Homo sapiens: one gene and its partner. The protein of the gene in region 2 interacts with the protein of the main gene of each other region in a biochemical or structural test. Each region holds a gene or a part of one and is shown on either strand. Other genes may lie near its edges.

Evidence for each region.
Region 1: the proteins of NLRP3 (region 2) and NEK7 are reported together in a solved structure, tested with the Homo sapiens proteins (one study listed by IntAct).

Annotation. Positions count from the first base shown.
Region 1 is NC_000001.11:198,159,998-198,163,497, forward strand, and holds part of NEK7 (serine/threonine-protein kinase Nek7), read left to right. Parts: intron 1-3,500. UniProt on the Homo sapiens protein: Protein kinase which plays an important role in mitotic cell cycle progression. Required for microtubule nucleation activity of the centrosome, robust mitotic spindle formation and cytokinesis.
Region 2 is NC_000001.11:247,439,221-247,444,489, reverse strand, and holds part of NLRP3 (NACHT, LRR and PYD domains-containing protein 3), read right to left. Parts: intron 5,210-5,269; exon of another isoform or gene 4,957-5,209; intron 519-4,956; coding exon 348-518; intron 1-347. UniProt on the Homo sapiens protein: Sensor component of the NLRP3 inflammasome, which mediates inflammasome activation in response to defects in membrane integrity, leading to secretion of inflammatory cytokines IL1B and IL18 and pyroptosis.

The sequences.
Region 1 (3,500 bases), about 49 Mb from region 2:
CATTTAAGTATTCTTTTTTTTTCCCCTCAATTATTGCGCATTTACTGAAATATAGACTTCTTTTTTTCACTTAAATATGTGGTCTGAGATATCATTAGAGACTTTTACAGTGTTTCCAGAACTAAACACTATTTTCCTAGGAACTATCTGATGTTTTAAGAATGTACCTCTGTAGTATTACAAATGTCGCCACCATTCAGGGTACCTGAGAACTGGGCCTGAGAGCAGGGCCCAGTTAAGTGTTAGTGATTACGCACTTTTGGGGAAAAAAAAAGTAGGTAATTCCAAAATTTCTTTCAGGTTTTGTTTCCCTTGATTTTTTTTTTTTTTTAAATAGGCTTTGGTATTTTAAAAATGCACAGTGTAGTATTTAAAAAATACACAGTGTAGCTGCAGCTGCAGCTGCACAAAACAGCACTCTGTCCTCATTCCCGGTTTCATTCACATTTAAGTGTTTACCCCTTCGAATTTTTGTTGGAAAACTACGAGGGTAGGTATTTCAGTGCATCGTCTATAAAACATATTAAACTTAATGTACGACTTAAGGGTGTCTTGGAAATGCCATGTATGATTACTGTTTGCTCCGAATTGTTTTATCAGCACTTCATCAGGATTTATGTAAATATATAGCAAGATGTTTTAAGACGCATTTCTTTACCCTTTTGAGACTTTTTCAATTTAATTCTCCCCCCTCCACCCATTTTTGTAGGGAATATGGATGAATAACATTTGGTTACATAATTGTAATCAAATATATGCATTTGTATAATATAATGGCAGTTCAGAATTTTTAAATTGATACAATTCAATCTCAGAGTTATAAAACTTCTAAACTGCTGAATTCTCCTTTGGTAATTAATAGTTTGATTATTCCTAGGTGTTGTGTATTTTCACAAAATTTTTTTTATTCTGAAGAAAACACTTACAGAGTATATTTCATGCTTTTCAGTGGGCAGTGGGAATGAGAAGGACAGATGATCATGAAGCATTCCTTAATATTTTTGAGCAGGATAACTTCTTTTTTAACCTTTGTCAAAATAACTGCCCTGCCATACTATTTAGGTAATGAGGTTATACAATGAGTGGTTTTGTTGTAATAGCTATCAAAGTGTTAAGCGGAACAATATATAAATGAATAAAACTGATTTTAGTGGTCTATAAAAATTGAGAAATACGTGTTTTCTGTTACATAATGGAAATAGGCCTTTTTGTAAATCTTATTAGTAGTCTTCTGTTGGTAGTGGGTAAGGGCTACTTTTTCAATCCAGTCTGCTTTTTTATAGAATAGTGATTCACAATTTTTTTCTCTGAAGGATCACATGGTAAATATTTCTGGCTTTGTGAGCCCTGTGATTGCATCTGCTGCCATTGTAGCCAAATACAGTATCTGACCAAGTGGGCATAGGTGTGTTCAAATAAAGCTTTATTTATACAAATAGGTTGGTAGCTTTCCCCCACTCTAGAAAATAATACCAGAGGTCTAAATGTGGTGCTATGCCATTGATGTTTGGGTTGATTCGGAATTTTCCACAACAGCGTTTTATAATTATTTTTGTGCTTAGACTCTTGTGACAATTTGTTGATCTTCCACAGTTCCCTCAGAATAATACCCAGCTGTCCATTCCCAAATTTTGTGTTTCATTTCAGAGTTTGTCAGCATAAGAACCTCTTTTAGGTTTATCCATGTTTTCAGGTTTCTTCACCATTCTTTGCTTCTGGAGGATCCCACTCCTATCCTGTGACATTGAATGAATGCCTGTCTGTGGCTCCCTGCTTCTGACTAAAGCGACATAGAATCTAATGTCAGTCATTTGTCTTTACTAAATGAAAACTACTAGACAAAGAAACATACCAAAACTTACTCATATGTTTCTTTGTCTAGTAGTTTTTATTTTAAGCCTACTGGTATGACTACCTTTGTCTACTTTAGAGGGAATTTTTGACATAAGCAAGGGGTTGGGCAAATTTTTTTCTTTTTAGGAAACATTAACTTAGTCTTTCAAAAAAGACTCTCCCCCGCCCCAGTAAAAAATATTGGAAAGAGCCTGTGCTTTAGCAGAGGGCCTACAGTCAAGGTATGTTTGGCCTGGGGTAGAGGTACTTCTGACCTTTGCTCTGAAAAGAATTAGCTGTAGACTTACCTGGGTGTAGCTACTGAGTAGCATAGAGCAGAATGGAAAATGCAACAGCTTTGTGAAAAAATTACACAGTACACTTTCTCAGCTCTAGTCAGGAGTGGGTTTTGTGTGTGCTGGACTTTTGACCCCTTAGCCCTCGGGGAAGCCCAGGTAGGACCTGGGACAATCAGAATTCCTGGCTAGTTGCCACCAGCTACAAGCAGTCTCTTCTCTTTATCTGACCCTGCTGCACATATATTATCATTATCTGTGTTTACCATGATGTGGAAAAGACTAGGCAGAAAACTCCAGGGTTGTCATTGCCTACTTTATGACCTTGGTTGAGTTGCTCATTTTATTCAGACTGTAGTTGTCGCAACTCATAAAGTTGCCTTGAGGAGTAAATGAAAATACCTTTGTAAATGTATGGTAGCAGGCCCAGTGTTAGTTTCATTTCACTTACTTCTCTATTCTTAGGACCTTCAGGGGTGGGAAACACATCTCCTGTTGTCAGTTTGTTCTGATGACAGGCCCTGTCACCCACTCTGCCTTGGCCCAGTTTTGTCTTAATGGGCTGCTTCCCACTTCTGCCATTTCCACTTCCTCTGCTTGAATTCTCCTTTTCCTTTGCCCTGTGATTTCCATATTCAAAATTTAATGGTTCCTACATTTGAGTTAGTTTTTATGACTTTCTTTGGAGTGTGGGGAGAGCCAGCAAGCCATAGTTTCTCAGGCAGAAAAAGGCACAAGAGGCTTGGGGGGTTATATTATGGACTACAAATAATGTGAGTTGCAAAAAGATCTTTAAATACAGATTCAAAAAATTGGCAAAATTAAAAATGTTCTTCCTAGCATGCTTAAAATTGTTTTTTTAAATTGTTGAAATATTTCCCCTATATCCTTATATTTACCTAGGTGAATTACTATACATTTTATTATGGTTATAATCATAACAAAGACATATGTCCTTATATTATGGTTGGAAAAGTTGAATAGATGTGTTTATGAAAAATTGTTATACTTCTAAAATGTAATGAATTCCTAATCTTGTATTGCCTTTATATCTAACTGCTGGACCATATAGTAAAGTGATATGATACCGGCACAGTGGCTCATACTTGTAGTCTCAGCACTTTGGGAGGCCAAGGTGGGAAGATTGCTTGAGACCTGGAGTTCAAGACCAGCCTGATCAATATAGTGAGACCCTGTCACTACAAAAAATTTAAAAAAAATTAGTTGGGCTTGGTGGCACGCACCTGTAATCCCAGCTACTTGGGAGGCTAAGGCAGGAGGATTGCTTGGGCCTGGAGGATGGCTTGAGTCTAGGATTTCGAGGCTGCAGTGAGCTGTGATGATGCCACCGCACTCCCACCTGGTGACAGA
Region 2 (5,269 bases):
TTCTCTCTCTTTTTCAAATCCACTGCATTGCACAGATCAAATTAGTAACAGTGGTTTGTTCATTGATTTACCAAATTCTGTGCCTTTCCCTACATTTCCATAAAATGTAAGTGTCATACTGCCCTCCTTGTTTTGTGGTACAGAAAACTGTGATGGTAAGGACTCAAGTTCCTACATCTATATCATCTGGAAGGACTCCTCCCAGTCCCATGATCCTGTAACAAGGCAAACACTAAGAAGACACCTCACTTCTAAGATACAGATTATCTTGTGGCCACTCTGCCTAAACGTCCCTCCACCCTTGGCCACCATGTGTTCTCATTGCTGTAATAAACCAAAGGACTTACTCCAACACCTGAAGCTTGCAGTCGGGGTGCAAGAGTCCCTCACAGAGTAGTTTGATCCCCTTGTCTCCGAGAGTGTTGCCTCGCAGGTAAAGGTGCGTGAGATTCTGATTAGTGCTGAGTACCGAGGACAAAGCTGAACAACAGACTGACGTAAGGCCAGAATTCACCAACCTGTAGAAGGACAGGGAGAAGAGTCCTCAGTACCCAGCTGTTCCCCAACATTGTGCAGCTGCTTTGACTCAGTGCCTCGTCCTCTCTCAGCAGCTGCAGCCTTCAGCTCAGAGAGCAGGAGCCAGCATCTCAGATATGATCTGGGGAGAGCAAGACCTGCTGTCTCTGGCTGTCACAGGAGACACAAATGATGTCTCAGCAGATGCTTTGCTGTATGAGTCCGACAGAAAGAGCCAAGGCAAACTGAGCCAGTTACCCCATACTCCTCCTCCTCCTCACACAGCTTTCCTCCGGCCAGGAGTGCTCCTCAGCACCACTTCTTCCAGAAACACATCCCAGTGGTTATCCTCAACTAATAATCCCCGTAACACTGCAGACACCCACACTGCAGGGGCCTTTTTTTTTTTTTTTAAGAGAGACAGGAAAAAAAAATCCTCCTCATGGGAAGTCGGTGCTGATTTAAACATCAAAGACAACAGGTGAACGTCCATTGTGACCTTCTAAGCTGTAGCTAGGGCTGTGACAGGAACACGGCGGGGCCCTTAGCAATTGCCACCTCCCGCCTTCCTGCGCCCCCAAATGCCCCTTTCACATCTTTCTCGCTGCAGCCCTCAACCACGTTGGAGAGGTGGGAGGATCGCTTGAGTCCAGGAAGTCGAGGCTGCAGTGAGCCATGATTGCGCTGCCACACTCTAGCCTGGGTGACAGAGTGAGACCCTGCCTAAATAAATAAATAAATAAGGCCAGGTGCAGTGGCTTATGCCTGTAATCCCAGCACTTTGGGAGGTCCAGCACTTTGGGAGGGTGGATCACGAGGTCAGGAGTTCAAAACCAGCCTGGCCAACATGGTGAAAGCCCATCTCTACTAAAAATATAAAAATTAGTTAGGGTGGTGGTGGGCACCTGTAATCCCAGCTACTTGGGAGGCTGAGGCAGGAGAATTGCTTGAACCTGGGAGGCAGAGGTTGCAGTGAGCCGAGATTGCCACTGCACTTCAACCTGGGCAACAAAGTGAGACTCTGTCTCAAAAATAAATAAATAAATAGAAAAAGCCAGGCTCTTGCTCAGTCACCCAGGCCAAGTGCACAGCTCACTGCAGTCTTAAACTCCTGGGCTCAGACAATCCACCCACCTTGGCCTCCCAAAGTGCTGGGATTACAGGCATGAGCCACTGTGCCTGACCCAGAGACCAGTCTTATTTGATTATTATATCAACCTGGCAAGGAAGGAGTGCAGCTAAAACTATTACATACATTTTACATATTAGAAATCTAAGGCTTATAAAAATTACATGTTTCTCTCAAGGCCACAGAGCAGGTGTGTGGTGGGGAGGGATCCAGACCTGGACTTTCCACCTTTTAGTCTCATCTTCTCCCCACTGCCCTTTCTGTCCACCTCTCTCTTCCTTCTGCACAGCAAAAGGCCTTTTAGAGCATAAAACCCCAAAAATGCATCAATCTCGATGGAATTAAGAGTTTTGATGTACTATTCTTGAGTCAAATTAAGCCCATTCTATCACCCAGGAAGAGCATAAGAGCTCTAAAATCACTGGTGGCGTAATTCCTAGGAGCACAGATGCTTCTATTCCATGAAGCCAGGAATAGCGCAGGTGATTGCCTCCTTCCTGCCAGAGTCCTTGGCAATGGCATGTTTTTTAAGCTCTTTGGTGTCTACGAGGCAGGAAAAATAGAAATACAGAAAAAGTGTATTCAGACAGTAAAGCATGAACAGATGACCAGCAGGAAAAAGTGATTATCCATCCACTGGTTTCTATCTTCCCAATTAAGGAAGAGTCAAACTGAAAAGACACAGTAAGTAAGACTAATAGGCAAATGAAGCCCAAGAGAGACAGACAAAAACAAAGCAAGTTTTGAGTGGCTTCTACTAAGCTCTCATCCCCGGTAAGAATTCTATCAGAGGGTTGTTGTTAATTAACATGCAGAAGGGATTAGTAGCATTCCTGGCAAAGGCCAGGGACATTCTAGTAGAATGGGGATGGTCTTCAAAGAGGAAAAGAGAAAATATTTTTTAAATTATGTAATTAAAGTTATGCAGGCTTTACCACTATTTCCAAAAAGGAGTAGAATGGATTATTCAACAGATGTTTGGGGAGCACTACACAGTAGTAGTAGAAATTGCAACAGACGGTGCAGTTTTGTTAAGAAAACGTCATATCCAAATTGTGAAAATGCTGGTAACTATTAAGCAACGGTTACACTGAACACATAATAAAATGTTTAAAGAATCAAACAACCATGTCCCACCAACCAATCCTTGGATTAGAGGAATGTGATTGACATCTCGATTTCAACCAATCCACCTAACTGAGCTCTACATTTACCAAGCACGGATATCTTGCCATGTACTGTATTAAGTTAATTGGTTGGGGATTTTTATTTATTAACTACCTGCCTATGTCACAAAACTGTCTCATAATGAAAACTGAATCCCAGTGCTTTGGGAGGCCAAGGTGGGAGGACCACTTGAGGCCAGGAGTTTGAGACCAGCCTGGGCAACATAGCAAGACCCTGTCTCTACATAAAAAATTTTAAACATTTTAAACATTACCCAGGCATGGTAGTACACACCTGTAGTCCTAGCTAGTCAGAAGGCTGAGGCAGGAAGATTGCTTGAGCCCAGGAGAGTTCAAGGCTACAGTGAGCTATGATCCTACCACTGCACTCCAGTCTGAGCCACAGAGCAAAACCCTGTCTTAAAAAAAGAAAAGAAAAGAAAGGAAAATAAGGAAAGGAAAGGGGAAAGGGAAAGGGGGGGGGGAGGGGAAGGGAAGGGAGAAAGAGAAAGAAAGAAAGAGAGAGAGAGAGAAAGAAAGAAAGAAAGAGAAAAAGAAAAAGAGAGAAAGAAAGGAGGAGGAGGAAGAAGGAAGGAAGGAAGGAAGGAATCTGAAGAAGAAGATCAAACATTTTTTGAGTATTTATTGTGTGCTTGACATGGATGACGACTTTAAACAGGGTTATCTCATTGAATGATCACAACCTCAAGATGGGAATGTTAGTTTTATCCCTGCTTTTAAATGGACAAAATGAGGATCACAGTAATTAAAAAATAAGTAGGAGCTTCTTAGATGGATAGTAGAAAGTGGGAAAGTGGGGGTAACCTTCCAGGCAAAAGGAAAAGAGTAGCAAGAATAAGGAAGATTAAAAGAACCACCAAGATGTTTCAAAACTAATTCATAGCTGGGCACAGTGATGTCCACCTATAGTCCCAGCTACTTGGGCGGCTGAGACGGGAGGATTGCTTGAGCCCAGGAGTGCAGATGAGATCAGGCACTCTGGGTGGTATGGCTGTAGATGAACCCAGGAATTCAAATTCAGCCTGAGCATCATAGCAAGTCCCCATCTCTAAAACAGCAAAACAAAACTCATCCAATATGACTCAAAATGGAGTGCAAGGTATGGCAGGAGAGAGGGCAGTATCAGGGACAGCCTTGTGTGCCAAGCTAAGATGTCACTCTGACTGCAGAGAAGAACTTTTGAAGATTTTTGAACAAAGGGTCAATATTTTCAAATTTGCATCTTAAAAAGTTCCCTCTGGTGTAGTGATGAGTGGTAGAGGGAACCGAAAGCAGAGCATTTAGGACCGTCCCCCGTTTACTCACTCAGCAGCCTCCTGGAAAGCCCCACTATTCAATGAGGCAGGAGGAAGAGGGCAGGAGCAGGTCAGAGAACGGGGGTGGAAGGTGGGGTATGATAATTAAACCAATGTTGCAAATGCTCAGCATGTGTGACCCTTGAGCAGTATTGAGACAGGCAGTACACAATATGCAGCCAGAGATGAGGACCCAAAGTTCGAGAGAAAAAAATGTAGCTATACCTAACACATAGGCTATACCTAACACATAGGCTATACCTAACACGTAGGCTATACCTAACCCATAGGCTATACCTAACACACAGGCTATGCCTAACCCATAGGCTATACCTAACACACAGCCACATGTATGGCTGTACCTAACACATAAAATGCATAAAAGTCTCGACTGATTAATGCCACTTATAGATACCTATCTCAAAGCAAATACACATGCATAAAACTATATATACAAATGTGCTTTTTGCAGAGTTGTTTGTAATAGTGGAAAAGAACAGTTATCCCAAAATGCATGATTTGATTAAATAAATTATGGTAAAGCACACTATGGGATATTATGCCCCAATCGATAGATCTACACAAATCAGCATGGAAATTTATCCATGATAAATGAAAAAAGGATATCACAGAAAAATATTTATATTATGGTTCTAGTTTCAATAGATAGGGTGTTATGGATTGAATTGTTTCCTCTAAGACTTTATATGTGGAAGTCCTAGGCCCCAGTACTTCAGATTGTGACCTTATTTGGTGATACGGTTACTGAAAATGTAATTAGTTAAGATCAGGTCGTTACAAATCTAACATGACTTGTGTTCTTTCACAGGGAAACTTGGGACATGGAGAAAGACACACACAGACACAGGGAAGACACCACGTAGAGATAAAGGCAATGGTGTGGCAGAGGCATCTACAGGTCAAGGAATGGCAAAATGTGTCAGCAAGATGACATTCCACCAGAAGCCAAAGAGAAGCATGAACAGATTCCCCACAGCCCTCAGAAGGACCCAGCCTGCTAGCATCTTAATCTCACACTTCTGGCCTCCAGAACTGAGGGACAATAAATTTCTGTTGTTTAAGCTGCTCTGTTTGTGATACTTTATTACAGTAGCTCTAACAGACTAGGCATTTAAAATACT